Linked DNA regions of Homo sapiens. The protein of the gene in region 2 purifies or fractionates together with the protein of the main gene of each other region. This does not show direct contact. Each region holds a gene or a part of one and is shown on either strand. Other genes may lie near its edges.

Region 1 (3,655 bases), on a different chromosome or scaffold from region 2:
CCAGCAGACGCTACTGGGAGCAGGCACTTCCTCTCCAGCTGGCTGTTGGCCTCTTGAAGGTAAAATCGACTTCACTTTTCCTCCATAAACACCCAAATATCCTGCATATAAAGTCCGCATCGCAAACTAATTATCTTACTATCATATCTGACGCCTGAATAGACATTTTTTGGCTAACTTTTCCAGGGTATTCTTTTTTTTTTTTTTTTTTTTTTTTTTGAGATGGAGTCTGGCTCTGTCACCCAGGCTGGAGTGCAGTGGTGCTATCTCGGCTCACTGCAAGCTCCGCTTCCCAGGTTCAGCCATTCTCCTGCCTCAGCCACCCGAGTAGCTGGGACTACAGGCACCCATCACCACGCCTGGCTAATTTTGTTTTTGTATTTTTAGTAGAGATGGGGTTTCACCGTGTTAGCCAGGATGGTCTCGATCTCCTGACCTTGTGATCTGCCTGCCTCGGCCTCCCAAAGTGCTGGGATTACAGGCGTGAGCCACCGCGCCTGGCCTTTCCAGGGTATTCTTTTAACGTGGTCTTATTTGCCTTTTTGAATTTAAGAAAATCTATCAGCATCATATACCACCACTGGAATATAAATTTGAAAGAGAGTCCTGCAGATTATATACATGAATCTACTTAGGCCTAATAACCAAGCAGTCCTCAGTGGCAGATCAATGAAAAGTGAAACTAAAGGCAAGTGAAGGGTAGGAGAGATTGGCCAGTGTTTGTGCAGCCTCTGTGGGAAGTGTCTAGTTCAATTCCTCTCATGTCTGCTTCTATTTTCCTGTTCCCCCCAATTCTAAAAAGCCAGTGTCTCCTTCTAATGTCTGTATGTTCTGTGGGAATTTTAAAGTCCAGGTGATACTCTATACAGACTGATATGGTTTGGCTCTGTGTCTGCATCCAAATCTCATCTGGAATTGTAATCCCCATGTATTGAGGAGAGGAGGTGATTGGATCATGGGGTGGTTCCCCCAGGCTGTTCTCATGATAGTGAGTTCTCACAAGATCTGATAGTTTTGTAAGTATCTGGAAGTTCCTCCTGTGTGCTTCTCTCTCCTGCTGCCATGTAAGACATGCCTGCTTTTCCTTCCACCATGATTGTACATTTTCTGAGGCCTCCCCAGCCATGCGGAACTGTGAGTCAATTAAACCTCTTTATAGCAGTATGAAAACAGACTAATACAGATAGTTTAAATATTTCATCTCTTGGGCAAAAATAATACTAGAGGCTTATAGTCTTTCCCACCAAGGTAGACAACTCTTATTCCCCATTCCAGGCATTCTTCCAATGTGGGTGGTTGGGACTGCTCTGCCTCAAGACCTATCCTGTGATAGTGGTCAACAAGGTCAATGGCAGGTGGTGCACTGGCAAGTCCTGCAAGATTGCCATATCTATAGAGAGCTGAGTGTAATGACAGAATCACAATCAGCTAGTATGCTTTGAAAAATATCTTTCTCCAGGACTGAATTGACAGGTATCTGGCAAACTTGCAGCGAAAGGAAAACATGAGTCTAGTCATGCCATTAGTACAGTCTTGAAATTGCATTTTCCTTCACTCATGCCTTTTGGGATGTATTAGGCTCTACCACTCCTACACAGAGAATGCTTTTTGAGGTTATCAGGAACAGAGTTTCGCATTCTCATGACACAGTATCAAAGACGCTGTGGGAGTTTGCTAAGGACTTCATGTGTCCTAGGTAGTAAGAAGGAAAATGACAGCATGGAAGCAGCAATACCAGTAATAGTAGCCTCTGTGACACCAGGGCGGGGCCGAGGGACCACTTCTCTGGGAGGAGACCCAGGCTTCTCATACTTGATGATGTAGCCGGTAATCCTGGCACGTGGCGGCTGCCATGATACCAGCAAGGAATTGGGTGTGGTGGCCAGGAAACGCAGGTTGGATGGTGCATCAATGGCTGAAAGAAAACAAAATTAAGTCTCTAAGAAGGCAAATAACCAAGAAAATTACTCCCACACTTTTCTCCCGAGCCGTTCTAAACACACTTAAAAGAATCTGAGAATACTGTAAACCGGAAACAAGATTCTCTGGAATCTATAATACAAAAATATACGCCTCACATTTGTTTTTTGAGTTCATGAAACTGATTGCATACAAGTCAATGGCATTTCCTCAGTAGAAGGTATAGTTACCAGTGGAGGCGTCGATGACCACAGGGGAGCTCCGAGCATTGTCATTCAAGGTGTACAGGTAGATCTTGTAGTCAGTGCCTGGTTGTAAACCTGGGATTTGAGAAGAGATGATTTTTAACAGTTCTTGCTTTTTACTAGGAGAATTCTCAAGCTAGCCTGCAATTTTTCTGGGTTCTTCTATCATCCCATATTTATATAGACTACCAAAGTGGTCCACATTTGAACAGTAAAGTAGAGCATGCTATGGATGTTAACTGTTAACAAGAAACATATCTCGAAAGTGAATCACTGATACAGACAAGGACACTGGTAAAGTAAATTCTGGAATGCAAAAATGCTATGTTGGAAGAGGCCCTCTTGCAGAATGGGGGTCAGCCACTTATTGAGGTTTTCTCTTTACCGTAATCAGATGGTCAATAGTTGAGCCTTGGAATCACAATTTTAAAAAGCTAAAAAAGACCTCAGATATTGAATATTCTTCGGTTACAATTTTGGCCTTTATTAAGTGGTATTGTTTACTTTTATATTAACTATGCTTTTTAATGCTAAGATCTATACATCACTGTTTTTTATTTCTTTTAGTTTTAAACCTTATGTTACAATTTTTTAAATAAGAAAGGGCACAATGATGGAAGATCAAACTTGTTGATTGACACTTACGCAATTTCCATGACAAATATTACACAAAATCAGGCATTCAAAGGACAAAACTATTTCTGATCATAGCATGAAAATAACGTTCTAAAACTGGGTTATGATGATAACACTGAAAATAAATTTTATCAGTGTCAGTCGTAGAACAGTTAATAAGCCCGTTTACATTGTGGGTATTTGTTAACAAATGTGGTTAGTGCAATGAGTTCCCTGACCTGTGATGGTGTAGCTTCTGACATCTGGCTTGATGGTTCTCTGGATTGGAGTCTGGCCATTGGCTGGAACGGCATCAACTTGGAAGCCAGTGATCGTCTCAGTCTTGGTTCTCCAGCTAATGGTGATGGTGGTCTCAGTAGCATCTGTCACACGAGCCCTTCTTGGTGGGCTGACATCTGCACAGGAGCATAGCTAGAGATTAGTGCCTGCTTGGCTCATCCATGTAAAGTTTTGGTATTTTAAAACGTTTCCTTGGTATATATCAAATTCATCCATTTCAAGAAATATATAACTAGTAATGTGTAGATTATCTCCTTTGGCATTCAGAGAGAAAGGTCAACTGTAATTAGAAAATAGGAAAATATCTACCTCTCAGACATTTTATTTTGAAGAGCTGAAAAGCTTTATAGATACTACCAGTGGTTCCCAGGGCTGGCTTTATAGTATCTACAAATACTTCAATAAATATTAAAATTATTAATGTATTATAATGTAAAAATATGTGTGGTAGGAGTTACAATAACATGGCCAGCTAACAATTTTGTGTGTGTGTGTGTGTATGTGTGTGTGAGAGAGAGAGAGAGTGTGTGTGTGTGTGTGTGTGTGTGTGTGTCTAATATTACGGCAAGTATTTT
Region 2 (2,649 bases):
ACAGGGCTGGAACTTGAGTCTGGGCTACCAACACAGACAAGATCTTTTTGGCAGCTATATGACCTATGATCTGTGTTTTGTTTTTTTTCTCTAAATGCAGGTGAAAAACCCTTGTGCTAAATGACTCCAAGAGCCCTTATTATTCAGGTAGCCAATACCCAGCAGCCGTCAGAGCTATTCCTTCTCCCAAGTTGGTTCCCCACCAAAGGCTGACCCCCAAGACCACCCAAGACTGTAAGAACATTCTTGGATGCAGGCATTCATTCATATGATCAAAACATATGGTCTACTATGTGCTGAGCACACTGTTCTAGATCTTGAAATACATCAATACACAAACACCCTGCCCCTGTGATGCTTGCATTCTAGTGGAAACAGACAATTAGACATGAACATAAAAATAGGTAAATTACACATTAAGTTACAAAGTGAAATGCTCCAGAAAAAAATCAAAAAGCGGAGCTCAGTAAGGAAGGGAGAAAGGGATGAAGTGTTGAATTCAGTGGTCAGGATAAAACTTTAAGGAGAAGGGAAGATTTGTGCAAAGTCTTGAAAGATGAGAAGGAAAGGACCGAACAAGTTATCTGGGGTAGATGTCTCCTGAGCAGAGAGGGCAGCCGGTGCCAGGGCTCAAGGTGGACGCATGCCTGGGTGGTCACAGACAGCACTGGGGGCAGGTGTGGCCGGGTAAAGTGGGCAGAGGGAGACAGCCGGCAAAGAGGTTACAGCGAGCAGAAAGTGCAGGGTCTTCACAGGCCACTGTGAGGCCCTGTAGACAGGGGCCTCTGCGGGTCTGACCCAGCTTCTGTGTGAGAACAGCCACTGTGAGGGCAGGAGGAGCTTCATGAACACCACTGCTGTGTGTGACCCGGGAAAGAGATGACAGGCCCCGGGCTAAGATGCTACAGGGTGGGGGTGGTAAGAAGCGTCAGGTTCTGTGTGTGCTCTCAAGGTAGAGCTGGAATGATTTCCTGAGGACCATTACGGCCTACGAGAGAAAGAGAGGAGTCAGAGATCACCGAGTGCTCTCGCCTGAGCCACTGGAGGCCAGTGATGCCACTGACTGCGACGGGAAAGGCTTTGGGTAAAGCAGGCCCCAAGCGGGGTGTGCGGGTGGATAGCAGGGGTTCCATAAATGAGGACATCAAGCAGGCAGCTGAACACATGAGTGTGAAGTGGAGAGAGAAGACTGGACTGGAGCTACAAATCCAGACGCCATCAGGATATGGACCCGATAAGACCACTGAGCGAGTGACTTAAAGACAGAGAAAAGAACAAAGGTCAAGACTTAGCCCGGGGTACTCCAACATGAAGCGATCAGGGACAAGAGGCCTGAGAGGGACGTACCAGGGAGGTAGAAGGAACACCATGAAGTGTGGTGTCCTGGAAGCCAGAGAAAGATGCGTCCTGTAGGGGAATCAGCTGTGTTGAAGTTAAGAGGAGCGTAAGAGCTGACCACTGGATTCCGCGATACGGAAGACATTGGCCACCCTGGCAAGGTCAGGCTCAGAGGCATAGAGGGACAAATGCCAGAAAGGAGTGGGTTTAGGAGAGAATGGGAGGAGAGGAATTGGAGGCAGAAAGGACACACAATTCTTTTGAAGTTTTTGCTGTAAAGGAAGGAAAGCAATGAAAGAAACAGACACATCCAGGGAAGGGAAAATAATAGCACATTTGTATGCAAATGAGAAAGATCCAGAAGGGCTGATGATGTGGAGAGAGAGAGGAAAAGGCTGGAGGATGTGCTTCAATAGCAGATGTGGAAGAGGCAGGGAGCTGGAATTCCCCAGGGGTGGGACAGAACAGATGGTTCTATTGCCCAGCTTCACAAAGAGGAGTGTGGTCCTGGCTCAAACAACTGAGTAGATGTGTGACCTTGGACAAGTCATTTACCTTCTCTGTGCAGTTTCTTCTAAAAAACAGCTGCTGTGAGGGCCAAATCAGAGAATACACTCAGCACATACAGGCAGGCATTGAGCACCCAGTAACGAGAACTAAATGCAGACTGTATGCCCTGGAATCATGCCCTACACCTCTTAGGGAATCGGTTTCTTCAGAGAGGAATGGTGAGCTTCCATCGAGAGGGTGTGTGTAAAAGCGCTTGGCACACAAGTGTGCTGGTCATCTCACAAGCCCTCCAGCCAGCTGGCCTCACCCTTAGAAGTCCTTACCTTCAGAACCGGCCCCACGGCCTTACCAGGCTCCCTGAGCTCTTCGGTCCCACCTTCCTACAGAGGCCAGTTAGTTACCTCTTCCAGGAGGACTTCTCCGTTGCCATCCTTGTCAATTTCTTCAAAGAGGTTGGGTGACACCTCACCATTCCATATGAACATGTACCCCTCAGGAAGGCCAGCCACCAGCTCCAGCAGCTCAATGTCAAACACTAATACGGCACTGCCGGGCACTTCTCCATCTGTCCAGGTGACAGGAGCGGGAGGCGGTGTCAGCCGGCAGGCAGCAGTCAAGCCCAACAACCAGCACCCACCCCAACCTCCAGCAGCCTCACTCAGAGTGGGACTTCTGACCAAAGCAAGAAAGCGGAGCAGAGGCTAGTCACTTTCTCACTGTAGGCAGTGGCCCGTTAATGACTCACGAAATCAGTTTAGAGGGTGGTGACCAGCGTTTAGTTATTTTTTAAATTAAGGAATA
Region 3 (3,655 bases), on a different chromosome or scaffold from region 2:
TCTTGAACTCTTGACCTCAAGTGATCCACCTGCCTCGGCCTCTCAAAGTGCTGGGATTACATGCATGAGCCACCTCACCCAGCCTGTTTCTTGTTTTAAATATAGAGATGGTGTCCCACTATCTTGCCCAGGCTAGTCTTGAACTCCTGGTCTCGAGTGATCCTCCTGCCTCTGCCTCCCAACAGACACCTAGTTTAAATGGGGCACCAATACCCCACTTACACGAGAGGGACCCACTCAAGCCCACAGAGCTGGGGGTCCGAGCCCAGGACTGTCTCTCTGTTTTTGAGATAAGGGTCTAGCTCTGTTGCTCAGGCTGTAGTGTCATGGTGCTGTGGTGCGATCATGGCTCACTGCAGCCTCGGACTCCCAGAATCAGGCAATCCTCCCACCTCAGCCTCCTGAGTAGCTGGGACTACAGGCACACCATCATACCTATCTAATTTTTGTATAGAGAGGATTTCACCATATTGCCCAGGCTGGTCTCGAACTCCTGGGCTCGAGGGATCCGCCCGCCTCAGCCTCCCAAAGTGTTAGGGTTACAGGTGTGAGTCACTGCACCTGGCCAGGCCTACCCCTTTTAAGCCTCTGCACTGGCCTCCGCTCACTGGCCCAAGCTCTGGAGCTAGGCTGCGGTGTTCTGATCCCAGCTCTGCCAGACCCTGGCTGTTTAACTCTAGGCAAGTTACTTGACCCCTCTGTGCCTTGGTATCCTCACCTGAAAATGGGAGTGATACCTGCCTCTCAGGGTTGCTACAGGATGAAGCAACTGAAGGTTACGTACTCAGAGTCCACAGCGAGTGCTGGGGGAATGTCCCCTTTGGGATCTCTGGGGATCAAGACCTTCTGGGGGCTCTTAGAGAGTGAGTCTGGCCTGTTCTCGCCCCACTGCACCTGTTACAGGGCGAGGCACACACACAGAAGTGCCTGGCATGTGTGGCTTGAATGAACAAGGGACTGTTTTGCCAACCCATTGTGCAAGTATTGAGTCCCTGCTTATGGAGGAGGGAAACTGCAGATCAGAGAGCCAGTGACTGGCCCGAGCTCGAGGGCGGGGCTGGGATCTGGCAAAGCCTCAGTCTCTGACCTCAAGGCTCAAATAGACTGTGGGCTCCTCTGCAGCCTCCTCAATGCCTGGTCCAGGTCTGGGACCCCATGGGAGGTTTGACGAGGGTACCAGCGAATGAGGAGGTGAGTGGTGAGCAAGCCTCGAGATCCATAGTTACAAGAGTGGCCTTGCATGCATCTGATAGAGGGACAGTGAGGCCTGAGGCTGCAGAGGGATTCAAATCCCCTGGCCAGGTGTGGTGGCTCACGCATGTAATCCCAGCACTTTGGGAGGATCACCTGAGGCCAGGAGTTCAAGACTATCCTGGCCAACATGGCAAAACCCCATCTCTACTAAAAATATAAAAATTATCCAGGCATGGGGGCGGGGCGCCTATAATCCCAGCTACTCTGGAGGTTAAGGCAAGAGAATTGCTTGAACCAAAGAGGCGGAGGTTGCAGTGAACTGAGATTGTATCACTGCACTCCAGCATGGGTGACAAAGTGAGACTGTCTCAAAAAAAAAAAAGAAAAGGCAGATGACTCCAAAGACTCTCTCAGGTGCTCCGGGCCTGGCACCTGCTCCCCAATGCTCTCCACAGGGCTCACCTGGCAGAAGGTGGGGCTGTGGACAGCTGACAGCGCCCGGCACAGAGCGTCCACATCGTTGAAGCCAGGTGGCAGGCGGTCCACACAGAGGCAGCGGGAGTGGAGAAGGGCAGGCGTCAGTTGCCCGGCATCCGTCCAGTGCACGTAGAGGGTGCGTGGTCCCAGCGGCTTGCCCAGCAGGTCCGACTTGGCACGGGCAGCCGAGTCCTTCTTCATGTACTCAGCAAAGCCATAGCCCTTGGATTGGCCAGTGCGCTCACTGTAGACCAGGAAGCAGCGCTCCAGGCTGCCGAAGGGCCGCACCAGCTCCTCGAACTGCTGCTGTGTGAGGCTGGGGGGCAGGTTGGCCACACACAGCAGGGCATCCGTGGGCTGCAGCTGCACCGACAGTTCACGCTCCCGCAGGCGGCTCTGGTGGAAAGCATTGATTGCGGCCTCGGCCTGCTCCCCATTCAGCAGGGTCACGAAGGCTGCGGTGGGAGGAGGGCAGTGCGAGGTCAGCCGGGCCCTGAGGGCCTGCCCCTCCACCCCGCCACCCTGCAAACCAGGTGGGACCTCCAAATGCTGGGCATCTCAGGTGCCTGCTGATCTGAGCAGTTGCCAGCCTTGGCGACTCACACAGGCGAGAGCGCCTGCCATTGACTCTAGGCTCCACGAAGCCCACTCCCTCTCCCAGCCCTGCGTCCACCTGCACCCACAGCAGCGCTCACCAACTGTGGGCCTGGCTCTGTCCTAAGAACGCTGTGGGTCACTCGGGTGATACCAAGGGCAGTGGTTAAGCCCATGCTCACTGGGGCCCAGATTTAAGCCCCAAGCCCCAGGTGGCTTTGGGGGTATCAGTTTCCTCATCTCTCAAATGGATATAACTTAATCATCACAATCACCATTTTGCCAGAGAGGAAACGGGCCCAGAGCAGCACCCCTGTGCCCCGAGTAGGGGAGCCTGGACTTGAACCCAGGCAGCCGGACTCCAGAGGCCCACTCTACACACTGCCCACCCCTGCCACCTTTCCAGGCCACCAGTGCCCCTGAACCCTGCTGCCACGTGCTGCCCCAGATTTGCGATCCACCCAGCGGCCGCAGGAAGCTTTGTTCAAAACGATCACGCCACATCCATCTTGTGGCTTCTAGCTGCAGGGTGCAGTGCAGCCTGTGCGGGCTCGCTGACCTCCCCTCCCATCTCACCGCTGCCACCCGGACCACGCCAGGCACACTCCAGAGGGGCCTTTGCAGCTGCTGTTTCTTGAGCATGGAACACTGAGCCCCACCTCCTCACCTGGTTAACCTGGACCCACCCAGGTAGAAACCCTGTCTCTACTAAAAATACAAAAATTAGCCGGGCATGGTGGCACATGCCTGTAATCCCAGCTACTCGGGAGGCTGAAGCAGGGGAATGGGCTGAACCCAGGAGGCGGAGGTTGCAGCGAGCCGAGCTCGCGCCACTGCACTCCAGCCTGGCGACAGAGCAAGACTCCATCTCAAAAAAAAAAAAAAAAAGACCACACAAGCAGGGGTGACTGGCTGAGTGAGGCAAGAGGGGTAAGAAGAGAATGAACCCACGGCCAAACGTTGTCAAGAATTAGCTCAATGCCAAGCGAGTGGAGTAGGAAGAGAATCAGCCCGATGCCCAGTGTTCTCCAAGGAGAACATGAAGGCTGTCCCAAGATGACAGGATGACAGGCAGATTGGGGCAACCTGCCATGTTGGCCTGGGGGGCAATACTGGGCCTGAAGCTCAGAGCAGCAGACAGTGAGCCAGGCCCTCCCATCTTCAGGGATGGTCACTCCCTGCCCTGGCCCGCCCCATGGCCCCACAAACCTGTCCCTTTGTATTTGTCCACAAAACAGTATTTGAGCTCATAGTCACTGAGCAGGTCATGTACTTCCTGTGGAGATACAAGACAAAAGACAGGGAGTTACTGGAGATGGAAGGGGGCAACCCAGTGCCGCTTCATAGCTGCCACCAGCTATGAAGGCAGGTCAATTACCACCCCCCATTT

What was found.
Region 1: the proteins of FKBP9 (region 2) and FN1 purify together in Homo sapiens (co-immunoprecipitation; 3 studies listed by BioGRID and IntAct, with this or other methods). This does not show direct contact.
Region 3: the proteins of FKBP9 (region 2) and RAVER1 purify together in Homo sapiens (co-immunoprecipitation; 3 studies listed by BioGRID and IntAct, with this or other methods). This does not show direct contact.

Annotation. Positions count from the first base shown.
Region 1 is NC_000002.12:215,373,479-215,377,133, forward strand, and holds part of FN1 (fibronectin isoform 1 precursor), read right to left. Parts: intron 3,197-3,655; coding exon 3,020-3,196; intron 2,241-3,019; coding exon 2,151-2,240; intron 1,916-2,150; coding exon 1,736-1,915; intron 1-1,735. UniProt on the Homo sapiens protein: Fibronectins bind cell surfaces and various compounds including collagen, fibrin, heparin, DNA, and actin. Fibronectins are involved in cell adhesion, cell motility, opsonization, wound healing, and maintenance of cell shape.
Region 2 is NC_000007.14:33,002,440-33,005,088, reverse strand, and holds part of FKBP9 (peptidyl-prolyl cis-trans isomerase FKBP9 isoform 1 precursor), read right to left. Parts: intron 2,414-2,649; coding exon 2,250-2,413; intron 1-2,249. UniProt on the Homo sapiens protein: PPIases accelerate the folding of proteins during protein synthesis.
Region 3 is NC_000019.10:10,326,986-10,330,640, forward strand, and holds part of RAVER1 (ribonucleoprotein PTB-binding 1), read right to left. Parts: intron 3,542-3,655; coding exon 3,475-3,541; intron 2,127-3,474; coding exon 1,657-2,126; intron 1-1,656. UniProt on the Homo sapiens protein: Cooperates with PTBP1 to modulate regulated alternative splicing events. Promotes exon skipping. Cooperates with PTBP1 to modulate switching between mutually exclusive exons during maturation of the TPM1 pre-mRNA.